Linked DNA regions of Homo sapiens: region 1 is linked to region 2. A link means that fine-mapping ties the variant in region 2 to the expression of a gene that starts in the linked region. Tissue or cell type: whole blood. Region 2 holds a variant in brackets; the other region holds the start of a gene. All regions are shown on one strand. Distances are from middle to middle.

Region 1 (8,178 bases), 25 kb after region 2:
CCAGGGTTTGAGCCCTCGTGGATTCTGACAACAAAGCCCGCTGGACTCCTTCCACCCCTCCCTGCCCACAGCCTGGATTGACAGGGACGTGGGCGGTGGGCAGGCGGACTGAGGCCTCTGAGACCCCTCCCCTGGACAAAGCCTGCAGAGACAACTGCCTGGGCCCACGGGTGGCTCACCTTTCTCTCCACGCATCCCCTTCTCTCCTCGGTCTCCTGGAGGAAGAGGCAGGATAATGAGCTTTTGACCCCAGATGTGTGGGCCACGGAAAGGCTGGTCCAGAGTGGGCTCCCGGCCTGGACACTGCATCTCCCCAGCCCTGCAGGCTCACTAAGGCATCACAACGCCCAGGTCTCAATGGTGGGGAGGGGCCCCGAGGCCTGGAATATCCCAGGGTCCCTGTCCGCCTGCCACTGTCTTTCTCTCTCTGTTGCCGTGTCTCTCTGTGTCTGTGTCTGTGTCTCTGTCTCTGTCTCTCCCTCCCTCATTTCATTACAGACAGCTCCAAGGTCCCTGCTCAAGGCCTCCTCGCTGTCTGTCCCCTGGTTACCTTTGGGCCCCACTGGTCCTGCCTTTCCAGGGGCTCCAGGGAGACCGCGTTCTCCTGAAAATTCCAAAGACATATCACTGAGAAAAATGCAACCTAAACAATTCTCCCTGGAAATCTTTGCCCCAAGTGGTTAAGTCCTGACCCTCCCCCACTCTGCCTTGAACCCCTTCTGGTTCCAGGAGCTCTCAGAATTGCTAGCCATGGATTTAGCCTGGGGGTGACTGCAGATGGAGGTGAGGGATTGAGGGAGGGGCCTGCACCCCACCTTGGGCTCAAGGCAAGGTGCACCTTGCTCCTGTTTGTGCCTTGGGAGCAACCTGGGTTTCACACTCTGTTGACCATAAGCCTGGACCCAAGTCACCCACACAGAGCTCTACTGCCTAGCAAGGGACCAGGTTCTGGAACAAAGAATGCGTCCTCAGAGAGCCTCATCCTACCACGTCCCCACACGGAGAGGGTGGGCGCCACGTGCAGCCGCTGCTGCCAGGGAGGATCCGGTTCCACCGTGCGCCTGAGCTCCTGGGGTGTCACACAGCGCTCCACGTGGTTCTGGCCAGAAAGGTGACCCTCCCGTCCCCGATGCCAGCCAAGAGGCAGCCCCCAGCCCGCTCGCTGACCCCAGTGGCTGGGGAGAGTGTATGGGGGCTGGTTCTTGCTTTAGGGTATATTAGCCAGCCATGCCCACTGGTAGAAGCCTGGTTCAAGGGAAGTCTGAGCCAGACTTGATTCTTCTCCTGCCAGGGAAGGTCTTCCTCCCCAGTGTTCCCTCAGCAGGGGATCGGGACCGCACTCTCAGGTCCAGCCTGCGGAGTGGGCACAGAGGACCTGGCCCCGGACACCCACACGGAAGCCTAGACACGTCAGTGAAAGTCCAAGTCATAGGGACATTTGAGCTTGTCCCATCTACACTGGGACATCCCCACCAAGTGCTCCGCAGGCATCATCTTGAATGCGTCCAGGCATGGGGAGCTCACCCCCTAAGGCAGCGCCCTTTCTGAGTTTTTGTGCACGTCTGCCTTATGCCATGCTTAGGGGGACCCAAAACCACCCAAGGCAGGTGCCTGCTGTTCATTCTCCCATGTTCCCTGCAAATCCACATGCAGAGCTCAGGGCTCAGGATTCGGGTGCCCTCTGTGCCCTGAAGTAGACCAGTCCAAGTCCCAGCCCCACTCCTTACTGGTTTGTCAAGTAGGAAAGCCTGTGACCTCTTTGAGTCTCAGTTTTCCCATATGAGGCAGGTGCAGAAGAAAGCGGTCACCTCAATTTTCAGGTGAGAAGGTGGAGGGACACAGAGCTTAGAAGTCGTGCCAGTAGCTGAGCAAAGCTGGTATTGGATCAAGGACTAGGAGACAGAGCTACAGAAGCATGTCCAAATGTGAGCTCATGAAATAGTTAGGAAAGACCCTCCCTCCATTTCAGAACCCTGTTGGGCCCTGGGAGTCAGCTCTGTTCCTGGCTCTAGCAGGGGCCTGACCCAGGCTCTTGATCTAGGAACCACGGTGGGGGTGTTGCCCAACTCTGCATCCAGTTTCATAAAGAGCAAGAGCCAGTGCCCCTGCCATGCCTGGCCTCCCCACCCGGCCCGCACCTACCTCTCTCTCCAATGACACCTGCCTCTCCCTTTGGCCCTGGGGCCCCGGGCAGCCCCGGGCAGCCTCGGAGAATGGTGAGCTTGTCAGAGCCCTCCAGGCCCACCACCTTCACCTCTGCAGAGAAACACAGGTGCCCACTCAGTGCCTGGCCCAACAGTGGCTGGGAAGTGAGGTTTTCTGCTCTGCTGGGGCCTTGGTCTGTCCTCACCCCTCAGGCACTGGTGAGGCGGAGATGTGATGGGGGGCAGAGCTCTGGCTTTGGAGGCCACCCCGACCTAGGGGAGCCCCATCTCCTCAGTGCTGTGTGTCCTGCAGCAAGTAACTTAACTCCTCTGAGCTTTGTGCCCTGGGCTGCCAAGCGGGGATAATAACAAGGTTGCGGCCAGGATTTGGTTAAAGAATGTGCATTTTAAATCTCTTATTGTAATTTATGGCATTTAGAAAGAGCTTAATAAACAGCGGGCACTTTCAATAACTAATGACAATCAATATTTCTAAGAAACTTGGGGAATTGGGGCTGACAAAGCATTTTCCCTCCCAGACCTTGGGAATGTGGTTGTAGAATTACTGGGCTGGAAGGGGCTTTCTAGGTCCTCTGGAGAGGGGCAGTGTGGGGTCCAAGGACACAGAGCCAGGTGTGGCACAGCTGCAGCCAAACCAAAGTTGTTTACTTCTTTGAAAAAATATTTTTCATTTTGTTCATTACAAAATCTACACGCCCTGCTAAGGGCGCTCTTAGAGACCATGGAACGGAGCAGTGCTCTCACCGGAGACATGGCACTGCCATTTTTGGGGTATTTCCTTTCTGTGTTTCCAGTCCTCCTTCCACTAGAGCAGGCTGTAATTTACTATTTATGTTTCCTTCATAAATATGTTATCAGCCAGGGGCACCAGGCCGTCCTTAGGAGCAGTCTCTTGCTGAGCGTCACAGAACCACCTGCTCCTGAATCAGTGAGGGAAACACCTTACCACCGTTCAAACCCTTGTCCCTATCAACTGATTCCGACTCTCTTGGAGGAGAGCCAGAAATCTGCCTTTTTAACAAACCCCCCAAGTCCGTGTGGCAGCCACCGTATTAGAGGGTCTTAGAGTGCCTCCCTGGTAAGCCCGTAAGAAGATAAAGTCAACAGTATTTTCTTCCTTCTCAGTGACAGATTCCAGACCCACCTATGAAGCTCCAATGGGCAAATCCTGGGCTTTCGAGGCAGACAGACCTGGTGACATCCCTCCCCTATCCCTCCATGACCCTGGGCAATGCCTCAGCTGCCCTGAGCCTCCATGTCCTTGCCTGAGGATAAAACAGATCTGTTGGGCATCTTCACAGGAAGATGTGCATAAAAGGTTTTGCCTGGGACACCCGAGTGTCAGTGAGTGGGGTTGTTACCAGCTTTTAGGGACCAGAAAACCCAGGTCTGTCTCACCTGGACATGTGTCCGCAGCCTGGGCAGGCAGGTTCTTGATATGCAGGAACAAGACTAGCAGGACAGCGAGCCCCCGGGCCATGGTGGCTCCACTCAGCTCCATGCTCTCTGGCCTTTGACTCTGAAGAGTCCCCCAGCTCTAACAGGGCAGAGGAAACCAGCTCTCGCCTTGTGCCACAGTTTCTCAACTCCCTGGGGGACACCCACTTCCTATGGGCTGCTTAGTTGCACCAACAGGAGGTATGAGGTCATCTCAAAGGATGTTTCCTTCCACTAGGCTCCAGCAAGATGCCCACCCCATTGGGCTCTCTTCCCCCAGCAAAGACACCCTGCTCCCAGTCCAGAGAGCTCCTGAGACTCCTCTGCTGGAAAGCATCGGCTTTGCTTGTGGCTTAAGGAGAACACAGCCCCCACACCCCCTTTCCATTCCCCAGCTGTCCCCAAGCAATACTCGGAAACCTTGACCTTAACCTTGGGGGATAAGGAAGGTTTTGCTGAAGACGCTTCCTTGCCTCATCTGTTCCCAGAAAATTCAGGGTTTGTCCGTCATCAGGCACTTATCATGGATGGAGAGGAAAAAAATGTTGAGCACTTGTTATGTCCCAAATACTATTTCCATCATATCATCTTGCACCAGCCCCATTCGGTGGAGTAAATTATTTGAAAGTTACAGCTGGAGAAATTGAAGTCACTCCACTAGTAAGAGCCAGGCATTGGACTCAATTCTGTCTAACGCCTTGTAGATCACTGGGATTGCTCATTTCACCTGAAGGTGGGGATGCCTCTTGTTCCCCCAAATCCCTGAGGCCATGTTCCTACTCCGCATCTCGTGCTGTGAATCATGCTTAGCCAGGCCACGCTGTGGACACTTTGTGCGGGATTTTTAGAACGTATAGAAATAGTCACTAACGAGAGTCAGATGGTAGCAGGACTAAGGAGCAGGGAGAGGTGTTGTTTTGTGGTTTGCAACTTCTCTGAGCCAGCGTGTGTAGACTGGGTTTCCAAACTCAAGGGCTCCCCAGGTGGGAGAGAAGTGGAGGGGCGGCCCAGGGGTGGGGGATCCAGGAGACACAGGACCTTGTGTCCAGGCTCTCTGGGCACCACAACGACTCTCGACTGTGTGTGTTTGTGTGTGTTGGCTCCAGCCTGTTGAGAGACAACGGCAGGAGGCTTCATTGCCTCAGACACCGCTTAGTGTCCCTGAGCTACTGGCCCAGGCGGGAGAGGTCTGGGTGTCAGTGGTGCGGCCTCCTTTCTTGGAGAGGATCCAATTCAGGAGCAGCACTCACCTGGGATTGGGTCAGAACAGGGAGAAAGCCAGCAGGTCTGTGCCCCTCAATTCCATTTGCCAGCTGCCCCCTGGGTGTGAGGGGACCTCCTCTTCCTTGCAACATCAATAGGTTTATTTCAGGTGAGAAGTCAACACCACCTTCAGATATCAAGTCAATGTTCCCAAGAGTATGAAAGAATGCAAGATTCTGGCAAGTTAAAATATCTTAACATTGGATCAACAAAAGTCATTTGATTCCTGGCAATGGCAGTTTAGGTATTTGGGGGCATCCTATTAAGGACAAACAGACAAAACCTTTAAAAAGAGATTTGCTCGAAGGCACCGTCAAGCTAGCTATGTAGTAAAGGATTACTTTGCCAAGCTCTCAGGAGCCACAGAAATCTTAGAGAAGTGAAACTAGTAGTGGGGACCTCTTTTTGCACAGGGATTTGCCAATCTCCAAAAGAGAGGTGAGAAGTTGGGCAGTGATTTCACCATCTTGCAGAGCTGAAGGTCAAAGACTGGGGCCTACGGCCTGCCAAAGGTATGGGTTTGGGGTTGGCTTTCAGAAGGGCTGCACCCTAGCAATAGGATGAGTGAGCAACAACCAACATTCACAAGGGCTGCAAACTGGTTTTGAGACATCTAAGTGTCCCAGGAAAGGAATCTCAACTCCTGGAATTATTGCTCATGCCCCCAGGCTCCTTGCTGAAAGAAACAAAAATCTTCTCTGAAGGAGAATGACATCATCCCAGGTCATTATTTCTGCAAAGTGTTTTATTTTTTTCAAATGAAATGTTAAAACACAATCAACGATAACCAGGCTCATGGGAATAAAAGACAATGTGTATAAGGACCAACAGAAACAACAGAATATAGAAAGAGGTCTTTGGAAGCTGTGGATACAGAAGTTACAACATAATTAACAGGAAAAATGGAAAACCATCCTCAGAGACTGAGAACAAATAAGGATGCTTGTCATCACCACTGTGGTCAACATTGTATTGCATGTCACTGTCCAGTGCAGTAGGCAAGAGAACAAAACCATAAAAAGATTGGAAAGGCAGACACAAAGTTGTTATTTTCAGAAGACATGATTGAGGATGTAGAAAATTCTAGAGTTTCTACAGATAAACTAGCAGAATAAAAAGTTTAGCAAAAATCAATTGTGCTTCTAAAAACTAGCCTCAAAGAATTTAAAAATGAAATTTAAAAAATTTGCATCAGCAACACCAAATTCAAATAACTGTGAATAAGTCTAACAACATCCATGCTGGTCTTCTGTGTACAAAACTATCAAATAGGAACAGAAAGACCTAAAAGAAGATTAAAATAATTAGAAGGATATTCTATATGTGTGGATTAGAATACCAAATATAGGAAAAACATTCATCTTCTCTTAATTTATCTAAATATCCACTGTATTATCAATTAAACTACCATTTTCTGTGACAATTGACATGGTGAATTTAAAATTTATATAAAGGGCCGGGTGCAGTGGCTCACACCTGTAATCCCATCACTTTAGGAGGCTGAGACAGGTAGATTACTTGAGGTCAGGAATTCAAGACCAGCCTGGCCAACATGGTAAAACCCTGTCTCTACTAAAAATACAAAAATTAGCTAGGCATGATGGTGGGCACCTGTAAACCCAGCTACTTAGGAGGCTGAGACAGGAGAATTGCTTGAACCCAGGAGGCGGAGGTTGCAGTGAGCCAAGATCGAGCCACTGTACTCCAGCCTGGACGACAGAGTGAGATTCCATCTCAAAAAATATATAATATATATATTTAGCAGGGTGTGGTGGTACATGCCTGTAGTCCCAGCTACTCAGGAGGCTGAGGTGGGAGAATTGCTTGAACCCGGGAGGTGGAGGTTGCAGTGAGCCGAGATTGCACCACTGCACTCCAGCCTGGGCAACAGAGTGAAACTCTGTCTAAATAAATAAACAAATAAATAAATAAATAAATAAAATTTATATAAAGGCAAGAGGCTGATAGCCATGCTATTCTTGAGCAAGAAAAAACAAGGGTGAGTTGCTTGAAGTGACACCAGCAGTCATTATCAAGCGATAGTGATGGAGACAGTGTGGGGCTGGCTTAGGCGTACACAGCAAACCTAGGGAAGTGAGTAGGGAGTGCAGAAGCAAATCCAGGCACATACGGACCCTAGATTTATGACATGGTGGCTCTAAAGAGCAATAGTGAAAGAATAAACTTTCAATGAGTGGCACAAACTACTGGAGAGTCATATGGAAAAACAAGAAGTTACACTTGACTTTTATCAGATGAAAAAAAAATCCACATCAGGAGAAGGGTAGACCCAAATGTGAGAGGGAAAACAGCAGTTTTAGATCATATTATAAGATCTCCAATAGCCTTGCAGTTATTTTAAATAAGATGGAAAACCACAAACCATAAAGGACAAGTGGAAAAATTGATCATGAAAATAGTATTATTTCTTTTTCAAAATACACCACCGTGGGAGGGAAAAGACGAGCCAGGGTGAGGGAAGAGAGGTTTCAACACACAGAAGTGACAAAAGGCTTGTATCCAGAATAAAGGGTTTCTGTAAATCAACGATGTTGTAGAAAGTGGGAAAGTGACTTCAACAAACGCTTATAAAAGATAATATTTAATAGATGATGGAAGTATGAAAACATGCTCAACTTCATAACTAATCCAAGAAATGAAAACTTAAATCTCATGAGATGACTGCAGACACTAAAATTTTTCTAAACAGCCAACTCTGCAAGGTTTTGGTGAAGAAGTGTCAGAAACCTTGGTACAAGCACTTCGGAAAACTGGCAGTATTCCCAACAATTCCCTACGACCAGCATATTCCATAACCAGCGATGTTCAGCTCAGTTCTACTCAACAGAGAGGTGTGCCCAGCTGGAAAGAAGACACGTGTGAAAATGTCCAGCCCCACGCCGGAAACAACCCAAACGTCCATCCGCAGCAGAATGGGGCCGTCAGCTGAGGTTCGTTCATACTGGAGCATCCTGTAGACCCATAAAATGATCGGATTCCAGCTTCACGCAAAAGCTTTGTTGAAATCCGCAAGCACACGGAGCATCCAGGGCGCCAGCACTAAGGCATGCGAACTGTTCATTTGCATCTGTACAGAGTTTGAAAGTGGGCAAAACTGAACAGCAGTGTGAAGGAATGCATGCTCGGTGGCAACGTGGAGAAAAAGGCCCAGACCATGCCAGTGAGATGACCGCTCCCTTAGCAGGGGCCAGTGAGACGACCGCTCCCTTAGGAGGGGGAGCCCTTAGGCCTGGAAGGGGCACGGGGGGCTGGAGATGGGTTTTGGCTTCATTGGGTGATGCAGGTTTAGTTT
Region 2 (8,178 bases):
GGCTTGTGTAATTAACCTAACATAACATAAATGTATTTGCATGACACGTGCATCGCATGTGCATACGTGTGTGTGTGTGTGCACCTGCGGGGCCTCTGGGAGGTGTAACTGAGGCAGGCATCGGAAGGGCTCTGTAGGACCAGCTGGTACTGGGTGGGCACCTGGGAGCCACAGGTGCCTGCTTCTCCCATCCCCTGAAAGACTTGGCTCCTTCAGGCCACCAGTGCTGCCTCAGGGTGTCTGGCTCCCCTCCAGAGCAGGGGGCTGAGCCAGGTTGGAGCCTAGGCCAAGGCCAAGAGTGTCCCCAGGGCTGGGCTGTCCCTGTCCCTCTGCTGGGGACCGCTGCCTCCCTTCCTGCTCTTCAGAGGTCTCAGGCCTCTGCTGTCGGGAGGGCTGGAAGAAGGGGCAGCAGCTGGCAGGGGGCCTGTGCCCACTAGACCCTAGATTCTTAACTGTAACTGTGGTTTCTGTGGCCAGGCTGGGGGTGACAGAGGCATTCAAGCCAGACTCCATCTTGAATAGGGGCTGGGTGAAATGAGGCTGAGGCCTGCTGTGCTGCAGTCCCAGGAGGTTAGGCATTCTTAGTCATAGGAGGTTGGCAGGACGGGTATCACAAAATACAGGTCAGGATGCGGTAAAGAAGACGGCCAAATCCCACCAAAACCAAGACAGTGACAAAAGTGACTTCTGGTCGTCCTCACTGCTCACTATATGCTAATTATAATGCGTTAGCATGTTGAAGGACACTCCCACGACAGTTTGCAAACACCATGGCAACTTCCGGAACTTACTATGTATGGTCTAAAAAAGGGAGGGACCCTCAGTTCCCTGCCCCTTTCTTGGAAAACTCATGAAAGATCCACCCCTTGTTTAGTATGTAATCAAGAAATAAGTATAAAAATAGCCAGTTAGCAGTCCTCAGAGCTTCTCTGCCTATGGAGTAGTCATTCTTTTGTTTCTTTACTTCTTTAATAAAGTGGCTTTTACTTTATGAACTCGCCCCAAATGCTTTCTTGTGAGAGGTCCAAGAACCCTCTCTTGGGGTCTGGATAAGGATGCTTATTTTCCCCAAAGCTGTGAAGCCTTGCTTTGGCTGGAGTAACTGACATTGAAACCGCCACTGTAAAATTATGACTGAGACAATGAAAGAGATCTGACTTAACCAACTCCATCTTGCTTCTAACCTCCAAGCTGTGCTTGTTCATTCCTAGGCATAGGCTGAACTAACTTTGGGAGGAACTTAGTTTATAGTTCAAAACAAAGATGATAATAGCCCTTTCCCAAAACCTCCTTCTTGCCTGAGGACTAGACTCCTTTTGTAGGACAAATTAGCCACAAGATTAGAAATTATGGTTTAGGAGTCATGCAGCTGAAGGCTACACGATTCTGACCCTCTCTCAACTGCTCCTGAAGTCAGTACTTGGGATATTTTGCAGACCTTGCACTTGATGGATCAGCTGGCACCACCCAGCTCAATAAACTGGCTCGTCTGATCTTGTGGCCCCCACCTAGGAACTGACTCAGTGCAAGAAGACAATTCTGACTCCCTGTGATTTCATCTCTGACCAATCAGTATGTCCAGCTCTTTGGCTTCCCCCCAACCCTGACCAATCAGCACTCCTGGCTCATTCGCTTCCCCCCAACTCACCAAGTTGTCCTTAAACACTCTGATCCCTGAATGCTCGGGTAGACTGATTTGGTAATAATGAAACTCTAGTCCAGTATCCTGCACGGCGGCTCTGCGTAAATTACTCTTTCTCGATTGCAATTCTCCTGTCTTGATAAATTGGCTCTGTCTGGGCAGCAGGCAAGCTGAACCCACTGGGTGGTTGCAACATCAGGAAGTCCCCGTCCTTAGGATGAGAAAGGAGCCCGCCCTGCAGGGCTGGAACCCCATGTATCAGGAAGGTGAAGCAGTGTACTCAGAAAGCTCCTCTGCAGGAGAGAGGGCCATTTAACAAATCTAGGCCCAGGGCAGTCCTCCACCTCTGAGGACTCTCCCCATGAAGGTGTGATGCTCTCTGGGAATGGGAGCACAACTTGACCCTTCCCTGGGATCCTCATTCTCCACCCTGCCCCTGCTACACCTTTTCCAGACCTCATTCTCACTCGCCTTCACCTCTCCAGAATCTGATGTGCTTTCTGGTTTTGTCTTCCCTGTGCTCTGCCTTCCGAGCAGTAGCGGGTGCTCTGTGGAACCCTAGGACCCTTCCATCCTGCCCTTGGGCTCTCAGCCCTTGGGCGATGGATTTGCTGCAGCCTGATCCCCACCCCCTCTTCCTGTCCAGTCTTCAGGAGGAACTGACCGAGCATGGGGCTCTGTGAGGCCTCCTGGCCTTGGTGTCAGTGGCCCTGCCTGGGGCCCTTTGGTCCCTGGTCCTGTTCAGCTGCCTGTACGTGTTTATGGAGACATTGGCCACGTGGCACTATGTGTGGCTTGTGCTCCCAGGCAGGGTCTCAGAGTAGAACTTGCCTCCTTCAAAAGCAAAGTCTCTTCATTTCAGCTGTGAAGTGCAGTGGCATTTTGCCCTCACAGACCTGGGCTGTGTGGCCTTGATCTGTGACCTGACCTCTCTGAATCTTCCTTCTCGTGTAACATGGGATGGCAGGGTGGATTTGAAGGCCCCGGGGAGTAAGAAGAATGTGCTCCCACACTGGGTTTGCAATGTGCTGAAGGGCCAGGAAGCGTAGCACAGCATCACACACCCGGCCCAGCTGCCAGTCCTCCTCCTAGGGCACCCCCTGCCCAGCTGACAGCCCTTGCCCGTGAGGCCTCCCCTTCTGTTCGGGCCTTTCCCTGGGCGCAGGAGCCCTTGGCTATAGGTCTTTGTTGTGGGCTCCAGCCCTGCCTAGCCCTGCCTGGCCTGCCCCTACACCTCCTGTCACCTGCCTGTCTCCTTGGGCTGAGAGTCCAGGCTGTTCTGTTGAGGGTGTTGGGAGCTGTGCCTTGGCATAGGGGTGGCGGGCAGGGATTGACTCTGTTGTGTATCCAGACCTGGGAGAGGAGGATGGAGCCACCTGCTGTGGGCCAGGCTCCAGCAAAGGCCTCCCTCACCTGCTGCCCACACTAGCCAGGGCGGGCTCCCTGGGGTCAGAGCAGAGGCCAGGCTGTCTGCCTTTATTGCCTTCAGAATCTGCTTGAGGGAGAACTGGCTCTCTTCTCTCTCTCCTGGCCTGAGGGACACTGTCTCCCTCCAATAAGCTGATGGTTGGGAGCTGTGACTGATAGGCACCCAAACCCTGAAACCAGGTGTTCTTGCCTCCATTGACCCAAACCCCCGTGTCCCCTGCCCCTTCCCTACCCCTCACCATGGGTTTCTGAGTTCTTCCAATGACTCCATGCCTTAAGTGCAATTTATAAAAAAAAGAACTGGGAAAGGGCCGTCTTGTGGATTCCAGGCTCAGCTGGCTCTAGGCAGAGCGTAATGTTGCTCACCAAAGGTAGGATGTGGTTTTAGGCTGCATTCACAAAGGCCTGACATCTAGAACAAGGAAGATGCCACACTCGCCTCTGCATAGGTCACTCCCCACCTGTGCCCTGGGTTCTGAGTTTTGCACTTTACAGCAACCAAGATGGAAACACTGCTGGGGAATGGGAGTGGAGAGCTGGAAAGAGCATTCTGGGAAGTGGCCGAAGGCAAGCAGGGAGTAACAGGCAGAAAACATGGCCTGCTGCAGAGCATGAACTGTGCATTTTGGGAGGTGACCCCACGCTAGGAGGACATCACTGTTCCAGGCTCCTGGGCACTCAGGGCCCCTCGCATCTCTTTGTCCCCAGCCTCTCTGGGTGTCTGTTCTTGTCCCTTTATTCCTCTGCGTCCTAGGCTTCTTTCCTCTCCCAGTAGCCTGTAGTCAGAAAGAGTGGGGTGGCCAACTTGTGCCAGTGAGCCTGGGCCTGCCCAGTTTTAGCACTGAGCATCCATCTCCTGGAAAAGCCCTAGCCACCAGGATGGTCGGTTGTCCTAAGAGGAGTCTCAGTGGCCCCAGTCAGATGCAACAGGTAAAAAATCCCCAAAACCACTGGGCACAGTGGCTCATGCCTGTAATCCCAGCACTTTGGGAGGCCGAGGAGGGTAGATCACAAGGTCAGGAGATCGAGACCATCCTGGCTAACACGGTGAAACCCCGTCTCTACTAAAAAAATACACACAAAAATTAGCTGGGTGTGGTGGCGGGTGCCTGTAGTCCCAGCTACTTGGGAGGCTGAGGCAGAAGAATGG[C/T]GTGAACCTGGGAGGTGGAGCTTGCAGTGAGCCGAGATCGCACCACTGCACTCCAGCCTGGGTGACAGAGCAAGACTCCATCTCAAAAAAAAAAAAAAAAAAAATCCCCAAAACACTGCATGCCCTATCCTCAAAGTCAGGAAGACACAGAGTTCAGGACACCTGCCCCACTGACCTTCACCTTCTCTTTTCTTCACTAGAATGACACTAATCACTTAGTGAAGAAAGACTAAGCCAAGCCCTTCTCCCACTACCCCCATGGAACATCTGCTGGGTGCACAGCCCTCTCTGGAGTACAAGGCAGTGAATTCCTGCTCTGAAGGAGCCTGCCCTCTCACCAGGAGAACGAGGCCTTTTCCAATAGCATCAGACAAACGGCCTAAATGGAAGACTCAAAGCAGTGGCTCCAGTGAGTCCTGTCCTGTTTCTTTCTTCCAGGCTCAGCCTGAAGTTCTCCTGAATCCTTATAGGAGCCAGAACTCCCCAGTTACTCTCTCACTGCCTGTCTGACCTGAGAGAGAGTTAGGAGGCGGGACGTGACTCTGGAGGCAGGGATTGGACACTGGATCAGATGAGGACTAGCTGAAACAGGGCCAAGGTGAAAGCAGCTTTCAATAAGACACACCCACCCATGTGCCATGTCAGTTTACCATTGCCCACGGCAACACCCAGAAGTTACCACCCCTTTCCATGGCAATGACTTGATGACCCAGAAGTCACCACTCTTTTCCTAGAAATTTCTGTATAAACCACCTTTAATTTGCATTTAGTTAAAAGTGGGTATAAGTATGTCTGCAGAACTGCCTCTGAGCTGCTGCTCTGGGCACACTGCCTATGGGGAGCCCTGCTCTGCAAGGAGGGTAACTTGGCTACTGCTGTACATGGCCGCTTCAATAGAAGTTGCTGTTTGATGCCACCAGCTCACCCTTAAATTCTTTCCTGGGTGAAGCCAAGAACCCTCCTGGGCTAAGCCCCAATTTGGGGCTCACCTACCCTGCATCAGGTGGATGTCCAGATTTAAGTGCAAATACAGACAATTCACATTCCAATCCATACACAAATGGCAAACCCTTGGGGAAGATGGCTGCATCGTTACCGTACGTGCTCCCATCACTCCAGGAGAATTTCTCATTATTGTTTATAAAAGGCATGCCTTGTGGCATTGAGACAGACATAGTGTTATATGTTCACTAAGCCTGTTTTTCCCCCTCCTGAGGGTACAAGAAGGCTGCTTTTCTAAACCTCTCTTGCAGTTAGATGAGACTATATGATGGAGATTTAGTCAATGGGATGTTCACAGAGATTATGCAGACCCCTTTCTAAACTGGCCCCCCAAACCTTCTGTCCCATGTCCTGGTGAGGAACCCCAAAGCCCTCTGTAAACCTGCATTGCACTGCATGGGCCCTGCATTGCAGCACAAGGGGAAATGATGACACTGTGATCCTGAGGGGTTGTTTGTTATAGCAGCTATTTGTGCTTACACTGACTCATGCAGAGATTGGTACCAGAAGTGCAAGAGCGTGGCAACAGACACCTAAAATCCAAGGCACTGGCCTAGCAGCCACATGGTGGGTGGAGGGCTGCAGAGTTTTGTTTGATGAACATGTTGTCTTCAATAACTTGGAAGGCAGTTCCTTGGAACGTCTCTTCCAGCCCCAGGGGATCGACTTGAAAAACAGAACTTTCAGTGTGTGTTTATTTTTATTGGCTGTCTGACTAGGTGTTACAAGAGAAAGAAGAGTTTAGAAAAGAAATTAGCAAGCAGGAAAAAAAATGGATTAAAGAGACTAGGAATTGGAAATCTCGCAGAGTTGGAAAATGCCTGAACATTGTTAGACTCCAAACAGTACGAGATGAGGTTTTAAAAGCACTAGGGTAAGAAGGATCAATGGAATACGTTGTTTTGAACAGAGTGACTCAAAATTGTAGTAAAGATCCTTCCTGCCCAAGCCTGAAAACTTTAAGAAAGACTTCCTTAAGATGAGAGATACAGGGAGGCATGGGGATAAATTGGCAAAGAAGTGCATCAAATCTGAATGAAATATGAGCCAAATTTCTATCTCAGGAAAGAAGATGCCCAGAAGAAATCTGGTTTTTTAAATCACTGCAGGAGTGATTCTTGTCACCATGTCCTGCCCTGGACTATGACCTGGGCAAGAAACAAACTTGCATTGTGTATCAGCCCTGAGATATTAAGATTGCCTGTTAAAATAGCTGCTGTTTCTTATCTTTACAAAGAGGTGGCCCAGGCGAGGAGAGGAGAAACCTGCATTCTCCTCCTGGTTCAAAAACTTACTCTGGGCTTTGTGCCAAGTTGGCCTCCTACTGATTTCTTTAGCTGCACTTGAGCTACTCAGTTTGGTTTTCATTGCCACTGTGACTCATCAGCCAGAGGCCATATGGGTGGGGGGCAGCCAGTTATCTGATTCCTGCAGCTTTACAGGAGGCTGGAAGCCCACCCGCCCACCCCAAGATGTGGCAGAAGTCCCAGTCGGGAAGCCAGCAGAGCCAAGGACAATCTGGATATGTCCATCTGTCCCAAGGTAGCAAACGGGCCCTCCCAGAGCCCTGTGCCTTCCATGACGGCATGGGTGTTCTACAATTTCATTGGGGTTGAAACATGAATCATCAAATCTGAGAACTGGAAATTAAGGGGCAGCTGCTCTGGGTGATCTTACCACCCAGAACTCAAGTCAGTGCCTCTGTAGCTCCCAGCAGACCCACAGGCACAAGAAGCTCACTACTGGCATGAGCAGCCACCAGATCAGTGTGGCCTGGGATGGTGGTGACTGACATTGGAAGGTCTTCCTCTTGTCAAATGCAGTTCTGCTTCTCCATAAAAGCTAATCTTCAAAGTGGGCCAAGTGACCTGTATGGCGGGAAGTCCAAGGTTGTTTACCCCGTACCGTCGGGAAGGGCCTCTACTGGGCTGATGGCCAAGACATGTGAGTCAAGGACAGAACGCACATCCAAAAACAAAAACAAAACCTGGAGCGGCCATCACGTATCCAGCATGCTTGGCTCTGATGAATGCTTGGCTCGGCTGATACCTACCTGGCTTCCCAGCTCCTGTTTCTCTGGGCTGTGCGAGCCTGGATTCTAATTGAAACCCATTTGCGTTAATTCGTTTATCTCTCTTTTCCCTTCCAGGATTGCTGTCTTCTTTAATATGAGTTTGCTCTGATGAGCCAGAAGATCTCCGGGTTTTGTTCGCTTGCACTAAAACCTTCTACTCGGCTCTCTGAAACTAGCACGCTAGTGGTTCCTCAACCTAACTGTCCGTCGGAGCCACCTGGGGAGGCTCTGAAAAATACAGATTCAGGGGCCCCATCCCAGACTTTTAGAACCAAAATCTCAGTGGGTGATGCCTAGAGCCCTCCCTCTTCTCCGCTGATGAGCTGTGGTAGGAAGTCACACAGCAGCACATCAAACAGAGATGACAAGTCAGCCTGCCTCCCACTCCATCTCCAGCCTTCTGTGGGCCATGTGTCCCCAGGCCCCCCACCCATCCCTCAGAATAAAGGTGAGAGAGATCCAAATCAAAAGCAAGTTGAAATGTTTTTAAAACATGCAATAAGGATCAAATTAATTACAGTGAATATTTACATGCCTTAGATAGATTGTTTTATGGGGATGTGGTATTATGACTTGAATCTGTTTCATAAGTGTCACTTATGACACTACGTGAACTTAAAGAAAAGCTTGTACCCTTTGAATCAATAAGCTTACCAGAGAACTTACTCTTGGAAAAAAAATGCAACGTAAGAGAAAAAAGCGTGTACATAAACGTGTTAATTACTGGCTAGGATATCAGTATTCAACGATAAGAGGAAACACTGGATAGATTATAAGTGTTCAACAATAAGAGGATGTCCATTTCCTCCAGTGAGTATTAAATGGCCATTTAAAAAAATGCTCAATGTGCAAGCTCTAGTGACCTGGAAACCTAAGTGTAAA

The links. PIP is the estimated chance that this variant, and not a neighbour inherited with it, causes the effect.
Region 1: it holds the start of FCN1, and the variant in region 2 is fine-mapped to the expression of FCN1 in whole blood (TOPMed, PIP above 0.99).

Annotation. Positions count from the first base shown.
Region 1 is chr9:134,914,206-134,922,383 of GRCh38, forward strand. It overlaps FCN1 (ficolin 1), which reads right to left and starts at 3,707. Exons shown (of 9, transcript NM_002003.5): 1 at 3,564-3,707; 2 at 2,143-2,256; 3 at 551-604; 4 at 180-215. The coding sequence starts at 3,666.
Region 2 is chr9:134,889,516-134,897,693 of GRCh38, forward strand. No RefSeq gene overlaps it. Among named protein-coding and RNA genes, the nearest start is that of FCN2, 13 kb to the left of the region's middle. RefSeq lists an enhancer at 290-790. The variant C/T (reference allele first, on the strand shown) is at 4,221.